Homo sapiens: one gene and its partner. The protein of the gene in region 2 interacts with the protein of the main gene of each other region in a pairwise test. Each region holds a gene or a part of one and is shown on either strand. Other genes may lie near its edges.

Evidence for each region. Proteins that work in one complex are often made in the same cells at the same time.
Region 1: the proteins of GPN2 (region 2) and GPN1 interact in binary tests that used the Homo sapiens proteins (3 or more experiments, as listed by UniProt).

The regions. Positions count from the first base shown.
Region 1 is NC_000002.12:27,624,559-27,632,422, forward strand, and holds the start of GPN1 (GPN-loop GTPase 1), read left to right. Parts: upstream 1-4,491; 5' UTR 4,492-4,500; coding exon 4,501-4,611; intron 4,612-4,816; coding exon of another isoform or gene 4,817-4,884; intron 4,885-5,300; coding exon 5,301-5,394; intron 5,395-6,468; coding exon 6,469-6,508; intron 6,509-7,275; coding exon 7,276-7,342; intron 7,343-7,864. Other genes in the region: CCDC121 (coiled-coil domain-containing protein 121), read right to left, coding at 2,405-3,359, 3,838-4,205. UniProt on the Homo sapiens protein: Small GTPase required for proper nuclear import of RNA polymerase II (RNAPII). May act at an RNAP assembly step prior to nuclear import.
Region 2 is NC_000001.11:26,875,089-26,880,687, forward strand, and holds the end of GPN2 (GPN-loop GTPase 2), read right to left. Parts: intron 4,662-5,599; coding exon 4,589-4,661; 3' UTR 1,044-4,588; downstream 1-1,043. UniProt on the Homo sapiens protein: Small GTPase required for proper localization of RNA polymerase II and III (RNAPII and RNAPIII). May act at an RNAP assembly step prior to nuclear import.

The DNA of each region.
Region 1 (7,864 bases), on a different chromosome or scaffold from region 2:
TCTCTCTTCTTATAGCAAATCCATTAGCAAGTCCTGCCTACCACCAACTACATTTTGAATCTGTTCACTCTACTTCTGCCATTCCAATCTAAGCCATCATTACCTCTTGCCTAGACTACAGTATCTTCGTAATTGGTTTCCTTCCACTTTTTTCTGGCTTGGATACACTCCACATAACAGTTGTAGTTTTTAAAATTAGGTAAATCAGACCTCATTCACCTGCTAAAGGCCCTCGGTGCCTAAACTCCTGCTAGCCTTAATAGCCTCATCTTCCTTTCCTCCACTCATGTTCTGTGACCATTCCTCAACTATACTTTACATACACACCTTTCTGTTCCTTGAACCTACCAAGCTTATTGCCATCTTAAGGCATTTGCATTCACTGTTGCCTCTGCCTAGAATAGTTTCTTCCCCAGTTTTTGCATTGTAGGCTTCATTTTAGCAATCATAGGTCTTAAATTTCACCTCAGAGGTCTTTTCCATCTAAACTCACTTTCTGTAACATAACCCTGTGTAATTTTCTAAATAGCAAAGCAGACAAAATGCAGATTGAAATCTTAGTTGGCCAACTTGCTGCTTACTTAGAGGTATGGATTTCAAGGTATGAAATCAGTTATCATTCAACTTTTAATGTCTTCAAGCCCTCACTCTGGAAGGGACAGCCACAAGCAGTATACCATATCCATTACCTGGGATGATAAGTAAAAATGAACTGAGATCAGGTGGAAGTTACCCACTCTTGAATTAGATAATTGGGACACCAGTGGCAGGAGGGGAATTAACAGAACTAATATGCTTCCTACTTTCCAACTTTTTATCAGCCTTAGAAATACATTGTCTTAGGGTTTTTACGTCCACAGAGACTAAGCCTTCAAGTTTGTCTTGGATACCATGCTTTCCTTGTTCAGTGTTTCTGTATTTTCAGCTCACAAATTGAGATTTAGGTTAAAGTACCTGTATGCTAAAATCCTAATTTCTGCATTAAAACTAGTTTTTATTATTTGCACATGTGAATAAGACATTTAAGAGTGGTAACAGAAGAGTGATGAAGTAGAAAATGTGTTACATTGGAACAGTAATAAAATCAGTGGATAAATGTTTTTATTTAATAACATTGTTTAATAAAAAACTACATATTTAACAGAAAAGTTGTTAAAGCTACAAGGTAAAGGCACATTGAAGGAGAATGCTTTTTAAATCCAATTTTCAGGGAATTCACTTTACATGTAAATAAAGCAGAAAATGCAGGAAAATTATTTTGAAGTTTTTCATCACTTAACAATTTCTGGGAAACAAAGTTCATCCTATTTTCCCATAGAGGACCCCTGTTAAAATATAAGATTATATTCCCCTATACTAGGATTCAGCATTCAAATAAATCACTAGTCCAACTTCAATGTCGTAGAACCCAAAAAAAATATAACTATCCTAAAAATATATAATTTAAAATATAATTTATAGTTATACTAAATGGGAATAAACATATGGCACACATTAATTACAAAGGATACTTCATGTACTAGAAAGTGCACCTGTAAGAAAATTAATAAATGACCTAAAACTAAAGCATTTAGGATAACAAACATCATTTTACTTGCTATCTTTTAGAATGCTGCTAGGGAAATCGATGGCACTTAAAAAAAAAGTTGTCCAAATATTTCAACTTTTTTTGGATACGTTTTCCTGAAATAAGTGGAGGCATTCAGTCACCTCAATGCTACAGGTGTTTCTTCAAATAAAACATTTTCAAAAGTAAGAGCTGACCTAATATATGTCTCCTTCATCTTTTCTTACCTTCTCAAACTTGTAGGGGCTTAGCATCAGATGAAAGGTCACTCTGCCTAGCACTTACTGGACTTGCTGTTATCAGAATGCTTTTTCACTCATGAGAAAACTAGAAGGAGCTACCTGGTCACTGGCACAAACTCACAAAGAGCTTGTAAAAACTGCTTTTGTCTGCTAAGTTGGTCAAAAGGAATGAGGATAAACTGGCAGAACGCTATTCAAAGTCTATTTGGAATGCTATCCTTAAAGGTACTTTCTCTATAAAGAAATACAATTTAGCTAGATGAAATAAATCACAACTGTTTTCACTTCCTTAGGTTGGTTTCCTTTAGCTAGTTTGATGTATGGTAAATGGCTAGGTTAGGGTCATGTGTTAGGTTAACTGGAGGTTTGTGGAATAGCTTATTAACGAGTATTTAAAGAAAAAGCTAGTTAAGGGAAGCTGGTTACCAAATATCTAGTAGGACTGTTGGATAAAACCATCTAATCCTTCACTCCAACACATCATGATGGAGATTTTACAATAGCAATCTGGAATCCAACAGCCTTTCTAACCAGGTTAATGTAGCACTTAAGAGTACTTGCTCCAGTTCTTATTTAATCAGTGTTATTTTAGAAGTTACTTTGGATTAATCCTTGATTTGGTGCCTTGGGGAAGACTGGGTGTGGTCTTTGGAACATCCTGTCTATTTAGGCACTGATTATGACTTCCTTGCAGTCTCTGCCTCGCCTGGATTAAGGACTCCAGATACCACTGTTCCTGCTGCAGCTGCTGCTTCCTGTTTTCTAAGTGGCTTTGAGTAGCCGTTAGTTTCTGGGCTTGCTCAATTAGCTGCAGTAATTCCTTCTTGAACTGCTGGTTCTCTCTGTTGATGCCACAGGAGTATTCAAAAATAAACCGCTTTGCTGCCAACTTCAAGGCCTGGGCCTTCATATTAAGCTCTCTTCTTTTTCTCTTTCCCAGTAGCCTCCTGTCTGGCTCGCTCAGTTGTTTCTCCAGTAATCTTTTCTCCTGGAGGAGCTGGGCCTGTACTTCCCGTGTCTTTGAAGCTGTCTCAGCTTGGACTTTCTTTGTCTCCTCCTGTAATGTCTGTATTTCTTTCTCCTGCTTTTCCTTTAATATAGCAATGTCCCTCATTGCCTGCAACTTCCGCTTCAAACTGGATTGGATATTTTCCTTTTGCAAGAGCGCTGTTTTAAGCACTGAAATTTGTTCTGCATATCTGGAGGCTGATTCTTGTCTTCTTCGTTCAATCTCTCCACTTTTTTGTAAATAGCTGTTCCATACCTTCTCAGGTTGCTCTGTGTACTCTTCAGTTTTGTTAGTCAGGTATTCCAGAAAGAATCTGTTTTCAGCCTGGACAAGTAACTTTTCTCGGTGTAGCTCCCTGGATTCCTCCAGTAGCTGTTTCCGCTGGGTTTGAGCTTGTTTTATATGCTTGTTCAGATCCGTCATTTCCGCCACTATCTTTTCTTTAAGCCTTGTCTCTACCTTTGTTAGCTTCTCTGGCTTGACAAAATTATTTATTAGACTATGATACGGTGGAAGGAGCCTTCTGGGGCCCTCAGCAAACCTGAAAGAACAAACGAGACATTCCTCTGTCAGTTAATGAAACTTTAGGAAGTAAGTGCACAACTGTCCTTCATTCATACAAGAGAATATTTCTGAGCACCAGAATGTTCCAGACATTATGCAAGGTGTGGGGAATCCAGCTAGTGGTAAAGGATGAGGAATGTAGCTCGTCATTTACAACGTGCATTCACTACAACCCTGGGAGGTATTACCTCAGTTTTAAAAAAGGAGAAAACAGGTTCAGAGAGTTTAAGTGACTTGCCCATGACTCACACCACTAGCAAGTGGCAGAGCCTGGGTATTAAAGCCAGATCTTATGACTTACTGAACACTGTTTGCAGCTACAAAGGGTCACAGAAACAGACTGGGTGGTCAGGAGTAGAAATAATTTTCTAGGCTCTTTCATCATCTTTCCTGAGTTTCTGAGGGACCTTCAGTGACTGGAGGGGAGGAAGCTCCCCTCCAGTACCTACTTGCACCTGGAATCCAAGCATTCATCCTGAAGGTCACGGCAACTGTGTAGTTCACTGAGGGTGACTGCCAAGGAATGAGCGCTAGCATCAGGAACCTGCGTCTGCAACTCGCGGGAACAATGTGCAAGTGTGGAAAGCTCCCGTAGTTTATTCGTTCGGTGCTCAAAGGGTCTCGGTGCTGCCCAGCAACCCTGGAGACTGCACCCTGCTCCAGTCCCGGCTGGTCCAGCCCTGAACTGTTTAACCGCCTCGGCTACCGAATAAGCCCGAGCAGCCGGTCCTCCAGTGGCTCCGCTCCCCGTTCTCTGTGGGCTCAAAATGACAGGCATGCTCCTCGTTTTCTTGCTGTGTGAGCCCTGCCCTCGGGACCCCATCTCTTCTGGCCTTCCTCCGGGAGACAAAAGCCCTCCCAGGCTGCAGAGATCAGCGCCCTTTTCCTAGCTCCCTTCAGCCTTCCTCTCGCTTGCTCAGCGCCCCCACTTCCTCGCCACTGTCACTAGTTGACTCATCAGCCCTGCCCGACGCTAAGAAGATGCCCTGGCAACCGCCGCGCCCCTCACCCGCTCCTTTCTGACGCTGTGGTGGTTTTCGTTCGCAGCCCAGAACATTGCGGAAGTTTCTCTACCCATGCGGTGTCTCTATGGTCGGGTGGGTGGGGCCAGGAGGAAGATGGCGGCGTCCGCAGCTGCCGCTGAGCTCCAGGCTTCTGGGGGTCCGCGGCACCCAGTGTGTCTGTTGGTGTTGGGAATGGCGGGATCCGGGAAAACCACTTTTGTACAGGTGACGTACACAGCATGGGTGTAGTAGGGGAGCGCAAAAGGTTGCCTCCGGCAGGCGGAAGGCCAGGAAGAAAGGGAGGGAAGAGGATTTGGAGGGTACCGGCGCATGGCTTTCGGGGGCTTCCCATCAACTTTAGTTCCTTCCCCGGCAAAGCCTCCTCGGGCCCTAGCCAGGTTAATTAAGGCTCTCTTCTGCGCACCTTCAGGGCATACTCGGTCCAGCTTACCACGTTGTACAGGAATTGTCTTGCTGATAAAATTGCGTTTCTCGGAGGCAAGTTACAAGTAACTTTAAAGATTAATACAGTGCTAGCACACAGGTTTTGGTGAAGATTTGCCAAATATTTCTTGCACGCCTGTCATGTTCCATTCACTGGGGATATAGCGAAAATGAGGTTGACAAGATTCATTCGTGGGGCCAAATATTTAATGGAGGAGATAGAGAAAACCCACATACGAAGAATCAAAACAAGTAAACAAGTGACTACGAGTAGGGGAAGCTTTGTTAGATGGGTGATGAAGAAAGGTAGCATTTGAACTGAGAGTTGTATCTTGGAGGTGGACATGGTGGATATTTCAGGTAGAAGAAAATCTAAGTGCAATATTCTTAAGGCATGGGTGTTAAAGGAATGGAAGTTCTCTCTTGTCCCCTCTTTGTCTCCTTCCAACCCTCTCCCCATATCTCTGCAGAGGCTCACAGGACACCTGCATGCCCAAGGCACTCCACCGTATGTGATCAACCTGGATCCAGCAGTACATGAAGTTCCCTTTCCTGCCAATATTGGTGAGTAAACCAGTAACATAACTTGTGTGCAGTGCTTTAAAGAGAATGGAAAAGGCCAGGCGTGGTGGCTCACGGCTGTAATCTCAGCACTTTGGGAGGCCGAGGCAGGTAGATCACGAGGTCAGGAGTTCAAGACCAGCCTGGCCAAGATGGTGAAACTCCATCTCTACTAAAAATACAAAAAATTAGCCAGGCACGGTGGCAGGCACCTGTAATTCCAGCTACTCGGGAGGCTGAGGCAGGAGAGTTGCTTGAACCCGGGTGGCAGAGGTTGCAGTGAGCCAAGATCGTGCCACTGCACTCCAGCCTGGTCAATAGAGTGAGACTCTGTAAAGCCTCCAGCCTGCCAGTCTTCAGTGCCTTCTTTTTTCATGTTTTCTAAACTATCTACTTTCATTTCCTTTGGATTTGCTTGCATTCCTAAACAGCTTAGGTTTTTTTTTTTTTTTTTTTTTTTTTAGACAGAGTCTCTGTCACCCAGGCCAGAGTGCAGTGGCGTGATTCACAGGTCACTGCAGCCTCAACATCCCAGGCTCAAGTGATCCTCCCACCTCAGCCTCCTGCCGCTATGCTGGGCTAGTTTTGTTTTGTTTGGAGAGACAAGGCCTCTCTATGTTGCCCAGGCTGGTCTTGAACTCCTGGGCTCAAGTAATCCTCCTGCCTTGGCCTCCCAAAGTGCTGGGATTATAGGTGTGAGCCACTGTGCCCAGCCTAACTCCTTTTAAAAAATCATGTCTGCATTGCCATTGTGTTGCCTTTGTCAGTAATAGGCAATTAGTAAGAAGCATTTTTTCCCCCTTGATTTTTGCCTCCCTTTTTCTAGGCATGTTTAAGTTGCATGAAACTTTGCACTTTGTGGAGACAAAACTCTTTGCCACAACTTTAGAGCTCCTAGCCCTAACATTCTTCATGATTTACTTGGCATTTATTCTTTGTAAGGAAGGAAACCAGTGTGAAAGTGGAGGTGGTAGAAGAGAATGCTGACAGGAGAAGGCTAGAAGGCCAGTTTTACTTTCCTGGTGGTAGGGAATGTGTATGTATTACATTCCAGTTAATTCTTTTTTTTCTCCTCAGATATTCGTGATACTGTAAAGTATAAAGAAGTAATGAAACAGTATCCTTTTCCATCTACTTTGGTCTTGACTCATTCCTGGCTTCTTGTCTGTGTATTTTGTGGCTTGAAAGAGTGTTTTTGCCTTTTCCTTGTGAAATATACAAGCAAAAGGATGGAAGCTGATTGTGGGAGAGGTAGGTGATCAGAAATACTATTTCAGCTTGAGATTTTAGTTTTCTTACCATCTCCCCAGATGGCAGGCTGTTGTAATTAAAGAGCAGAGAGTATGATAGGATAACTGACAGCTACCTGGGTCCCACAAGGTAGTATTTTGCCTTGGAGGATCATCTGTTGGTCACCACCTCTTTAGACTGGGAAACTCAGAAATGAGTGAGTTTAGTTGGATTAACTCTTAGTAAATTGCTGTATGAAATGTGTACTCTCTCCGTAGGCAAGTCTAAGTAGGAAGACTAATCATAATCAGCAGATTGCTTGGTTTATTTATGAGGATCAGAGCCGGAGGTGTTATACAGGTGGCCTTAATGACCAATGCCAGTGGGCTGTCACTGCCTGATGCACCTGTATTACATTTTGGTCACTTTGCTTTCTTCATTTTGCCTGACCACTCCTTAAATCAAATGAGTGAGCCAGACCTTGATAATGACTGTTTCCCTGTGTGGTTAAGTTTGTATGGTAGTCAAGGATTAGGTTGCCAGTATCCATTAATGGAACACTAATTTCATAATGCCGTTTGTGTGAATGATAGCCTAGGTATGAACTTTATAATCTAATCTATAAGCGATTTCAGTCCTCAACTTGGTGTCTAGATATGGACTTGGACCCAATGGCGGCATAGTGACCTCACTCAATCTCTTTGCTACCAGATTTGATCAGGTATATCTGTCTTTAGTATATTAATATGGTTGTGTAAAAATCTGTGACTCTTAAATTCCTTAGCTTGATCACATTGGTAAAGAAGAGCAGCAAACCTGAGCATAAATATAGAAAATAAGTAGGCATTTTGTCAGACAGAGAAGTAGACTATGAGAAGGTGATCAGTATGGTCAGACACTTCAAATTTAATATTTGTGACAGCTAATAAAAATCCAAAAGACCTGGGTTATTTTCTTGACCTGTTCTTTGCCTGTGGTATTACCCCGAAGCTGGGATGGGGGTATTTGGGAGTGGGATGGACTAGCAGTCATGGAATGGAAAGATGATGGGGCATTTTACTTGTGATAAATATTTGTCATTCTTTAGGTTTTCTTTGTCACCTACTTCCATAAGAGTGTTTTATAATCACTGGTTTTTATACTCTGATGTTAGGCCATGAGACAGGCTGTTAACATTTTGACAAGAGATAACAACTTGACATTGACAGATCAAAGTCTTCAGCTTCTCAGATCCTTGGATTGT
Region 2 (5,599 bases):
CCCTCAGGATTCTTGAGAAAGGGACAGAGAATTCCTCAAATCGGCCTTCCCTTTCTCTTTCCCACAGATCCTAATGGGACCATACTTCCTATATTCTCAGCCACCAGCGGGTGAGCATTTTGCTAATCCAGGCAGACTGGATGTGCTTCAGCTCTGTGGGCTTTAGGGCCTCACCCTCATGCCTAAGCCTCTTTGTCAGGCTGGAAACCTTTCCAATTACCTGTGGTCCCTGCTAAGTTCTTCCAATTCTACACTGTCTTCTAATTGTTGAGGTTCCCAGTTCAGAGCCAAGAAATGCATATAACCTAATGTCAGTGGTTAGTAGGGATGACCAGGAAGGTCCCTTCTAAGACACTCAGAGAGGGCTTCCTCCCTCCCGAAGTTGTAGAGAATTGTCAAGGGAGGTCTGGAGATGAGAAGAGCAATTTCAGACACTATCAGTGAGATGTAAAGTGGCACATTTTTTGGAAAGCATTTTGGCAACATGAATCCAGAACCTGGAATATGTCAGTTATTTCATTTCCAGGACTACCTCCCAAGTTAAAAATCAGAGACTCAGACAATGATTTGGGTACGAGGATATTAATCACACTATTTACAAAAGTAAAAGTTGGTGATGACTTGTAGGCTAGTAGTAGGCTAACCACGGGAGTATGGATAGGTAAACAATGTTATAGCCAAACCATGGACTATTACCAAAGTGACATTAAAAAGGTTATTTACTTGATTGTTTGAGACAGGGTCTCACTCTGTTGCCCAAGCTAGAGTGCAGTGACACAATCATAGTTCACTGCAGCCTCCACCTCCTGGCTCAAGTGATCCTCCCACTTCAGCCTCCCAGAGTCCTAGAATTACAGGAATTGTATCTATTTTTTATTACATGGAATGGTGTTAACTGAAAAAGGCAGGATACAACACAATTATAAAATATCCCACTTATATAAATGCAATATCCACCCCAGGTATAAAAATAAGGCTGAAAGAATACATAAAATATCTCCAGGTATTTACAGAGATGAGAAAAAAAGAGAATACACAAAATATACATTTGAATATAGAATTTATTTTTCTCTTAAACAGATGACCCCATAGAAAGTTTCCGTTATGGGATTCTGGGTGACTCATTTTCGTTTTTTTTTTTTTTGAGATGTACTTTCCATCTTGTTACCCAGGCTGGAGTGCAATGGCGCGATCTCCGCTCACTGAAACTTCCGCCTCCCAGGTTCAAGCGATTCTCCTGCCTCAGTCTCCTAAGTAGCTGGAATTACAGGCGCATGCCACCATGCCCTGCTCATTTTTTTGTATTTTTAGCAGAGACAGGTTTTCACCATGTTGGTCAGGCTTGTCTTACACTCCTGACCTCAGGTGATCAGCCCGCCTTGGCCTCCCAAAGTGCTGGGATTACAGGCGTGAGCCACCGTGCTCGGCCTTCTCTTTCATTTTCTAAGTTTTTTACTTTCCTATATTTATTAGGAAATTTAAAAATAATCTTAAGGATGACTGCCACATGCCAGCCATAATGGAGGATGGTCTTTCTTCTACCCTAGACATTTCACACTGAACAGGCCTCACTTGGATCTCGGACATCTTCCTTTCTGCACTGTGCAGATCCCCTCAGTATATGCAGAGAACAGAAAATCATTTTGCTGCCAGTGGAAGGTAGACAGAAGCTACGTTTATTGGGGAAGAAAATACCCTTGCTGTCAAACCATGGCCTGAAAATAAAGGCCTTGGATTACTCCCACCCATCTCCACTCCATGGGTGCAGAGAATGCTGAGGGTGCTTGCATACGAGACCATAAAGTTGTAAAGGATGCCTTCCAGCCCCCATTTGGTTTGTTATGGTGAGAGCTGGGGCCTCTGTGAGTGGCAAGCATCAAAACCCACGACCACAGCCGTTGGTACTGCTTTCAAAAGCATAGCACCCACCCTAATGCCCTGATAAAGGATTTGTCCAGTAGCCTGGGCGTCAGGATTCCTGGGCTCTAGGCCCCACAGGTGATTCACAGCTAGCCCCAGGCTGTGCCTCCTGGCCTCAGTTTTCCTGGCTTGCTCTATTGGTACTTCCTACCTACTCTGTGGGGTGTTAATAGGGGTGAGGTGCTTTGAACTTCTCAGATGAAAGAGGCTGGGAAGCAGCACCCAGTTATTATCCCCTTTACAGCCAGGCGTGGGAGCTGAGGTTGCTTTCATACTGTTCCAGCCACAGTAGCCTCCTCATAGCCCCTCATTCATCTGCCTTTGGCTCTGGCTGCCACAACCAGAAAGCAAAGCAGTCAGTCCTATTTCAATGCTGTTTCAGAACAGATGTCCCTAAATTAATTTGCCAACTGCCCAAACCACTGGTGAACTATCTATGATTCAGTAATACTTTACAGGTGCCTAATTTCTTTCTCCTGATTGGCTGCAAAACCTGTGGGACAAGGGCTGTGACTTCTCACCAATAAATATACCAAAGGAGGGATACTCGCAATTTAGTCAGCAAAATGGGTTATGAGAAAGCCAGGCTGACCAAAGTTCAAACTTCTCATCTTTCTGCTTCCTCACTGTAACACGGGCAATGGCTTATTAATTCTCCCCATCCTGTCTATCTCTAATGAGGATTGTGTGTGTGGAAGCACTCTAAAATACCAAGCACTTCATATGTGTTAATAAGTCCAAATGTGGCCGGGTGCAGTGGCTCACGCCTGTAATCCCAGCACTTTGGGAGGCCAAGGCGGGTAAATCATGAGGTCAGTAGTTCAAGACCAGCCTGAACAACATGGTGAAACCCCGTCTTTACTAAAAATACAAAAATTAGCCGGGCATGTGGTAGGCGCCTGTAATCCCAGCTACTCGGGAGGCTGAGGCAGAGAATTGCTTGAACCTGGGAGGCGGAGGTTGCAGTGAGCCGAGATTGTGCCACTGGACTCCAGCCTGGGCGACAGAGAGAGACTTTGTCTCCAAAAAAAGAAAGTCCAAATACATGCAAATAAAACTTGGCATAACAGTCTTGCCCAAGCCATCAGTCCTGCCCCTTCTGCCACCAGGTTACAACTGCAAAAAATTAGGTTGGGGTGCCACCTACTGGTTGAAAAATATATGAACTGCATCCAGCCAGTTGCAAGAGCAAAGAAAAAACTTCCAAGCCCTCTTGATTTTTGCCACACTCTCATAGGAACTGCCATATTATATAATTAATATTTTTCTTTACACAACTTACTATTTTTTTTTGAGACAGAGTCTTGCTCTGTCGCCCAGGTTGGAATGTAGGCACAATCTTGGCTCACTGCAACCTCCGCCTCCTGGGTTCAAGCAATTCTTCTGCCTCAGCCTCCCCAATAGCTGGGATTATAGGCGTGCAACACCATGCCCAGCTAATTTTTATGTTTTTAGTAGAGAGGGGTTTCACCATGTTGGCCAGGCTGGTCTCGAACTCCTGACCTCAGGTGATCCGCCCGCCTCAGCCTCCCAAAGTGCTGGGCTTACAGGCATGAGTGAACACGCCCAGCCTTGTATTTCATTTTTGAAGTACACCTTTTTTTTGAGACAAAGTCTCGCTCTGTCACCAGGCTGGAGTGCAGTGGTGCAATCTCAGCTCACTGTAACCTCTGACTCCTGGGTTCAAATGATTCTCCTGCCTCAGCCTCCCAAGTAGCTGGAACTACAGGTACGCGCCACCTATGCCCAGCTAATTAAAAAAATTTTTTGGTAGAGATGGGGTTTCACCATGTTGGCCAGGATGGTCTCGATCTCTTGACCTTGGGATCCGCCTGCCTCGGCCTCCCAAAGTGCTGGGATTACAGGCGTGAGCCACCGCACCCAGCCTTGAAGTAAACTTTTAACCACTACTGTAAATGGAAAACTAGTTAACACTTGTCAACAATAGAATAAAACCATAAAACAAATACAGTGAATATAAAACATTAACAAAGTTCTAGTTAGGAAGTGTTGCCTGTGAAAGCTGAAGCTTGAGGCTCTGTTAAAACTGAAAATTGTGGGACATGGTGGCTCACACCTGTAGTCCCAGTTACTCAGGCGTCTGAGGCGGGAAGATCACATGAGCCCAGGAGTTTGAGTCCAGCCTGGGCCATATAGCAAGACCCCATCTTTTAAAAAACAAACCTCAGAACCAAAAACTGAAGATTAATAAAAACACATGACTGGAGACTGAATGTAAATCCTATGTGACTGAATGTGAATTATATGCTTTGGGGAAATACTGATTATTCCAAGGCTAGGTGACACTCCCTCATTCTTCCCCAAACCCCTGGGCCCGGAAGACTGAAGAAAAGTTTGGAAGTCACAAAAAGTAGAAAATAAACTCTTGTATTGTAGCACATTTCATCACAGCCTGACTAGGACCAGTGCTCGACTTTCTGGTGGCAGGGCCCAGAGCTCACGGACACCACTGACAGTATGGGGGGTGTTCTGCTTGGCACCATGTCTGGCTTTTTGGCCAGAAGTCCTTTGCAGAGCTGAATATCCCCTTGCCAGCCCGCCAGCTCTGGCTGGGAGGACTTGCTCTTGGGTCTGCAGCCTGCATCAGGAGCCTCCACTTTCCCCAGTGCTGGATTATGCATCCTGCTCTCCAGGGTCCACCTTGTTGCTACAGCTGCATGGCTTCCTGCTCCACTGACTGGTTCGAGGGTGCCAGGTACTTCTCCTGGATGCCCAGTGTGCTGAGGAAGGGTGCGTCAAGGCTGATAGCATAGGCAGAGGATGGGGAGCTGGTCTGGGCAGGATCTGACTTCCGCTGATGCCTACACTCCAACCATGTCCATCCCTCTCTTCCTCATAATTATAGGGACCAATCAGGTATGAGAAGCCTCCAAAAACACCCAGACTCAAATGCTCCTCTATCTGCCTCTTCCACACACTGCTGCGGATCAAAGGACTGGACAGTACTAACCTTGCAATTTTGCGTTATGGCACATGCTCTGGAGCCAGACTAAGGGAGTTCAAAACCTGATGATGTCTGGGTCTGGGGTCTGACGAGGACATGGAGGTTAGCCATGGCTAGGTTGGCTATGTTAGGACACCATGGCTGTTGTACTACCAGATGGCTCCAAAGTAAGAAACAGATTCTACACCCACCAAAACCAAGGTTTGAACTGTTCTTCCAAAACATCCCGGGAGAGGGACCTTGGGCCTGTCGCCTCAATTATAAAAGGGGTTGAAATGAGGATTAAATGACCCTGCAAGTAAAGCACTTAGCCCACCAAATGATGTTCGAGTTACAGACCTTTCTTTTTCTTTTTTTTGAGACAGAGTCTCACTCTGTCACCAAGCTGGAGTGCAGTGGCGCGATCTCGGCTCACCGCAACCTCCAACTCCCTGGTTCAAGCAATTCTCCTGCCTCAGCCTCCAGAGTAGCTGGGACTACAGGTACATGCCAGCACACCCAGCTAATTTTTCTATTTTTAGTAGAGACAGGGTTTCACCATGTTGACAGAAATGGTCTCGATCTCCTGACCTCGTGATCCGCCCGCCTTGGCCTCCCAAAGTGCTGGGATTACAGGCGTAAGCCACCACGCCTGGCCAAAAATAAATTTTTATACTTTAAAAAAAAAAAAGAGAGAGAGATGGGGTCTCACTATGTTACCCAGTCTGGTCTCAA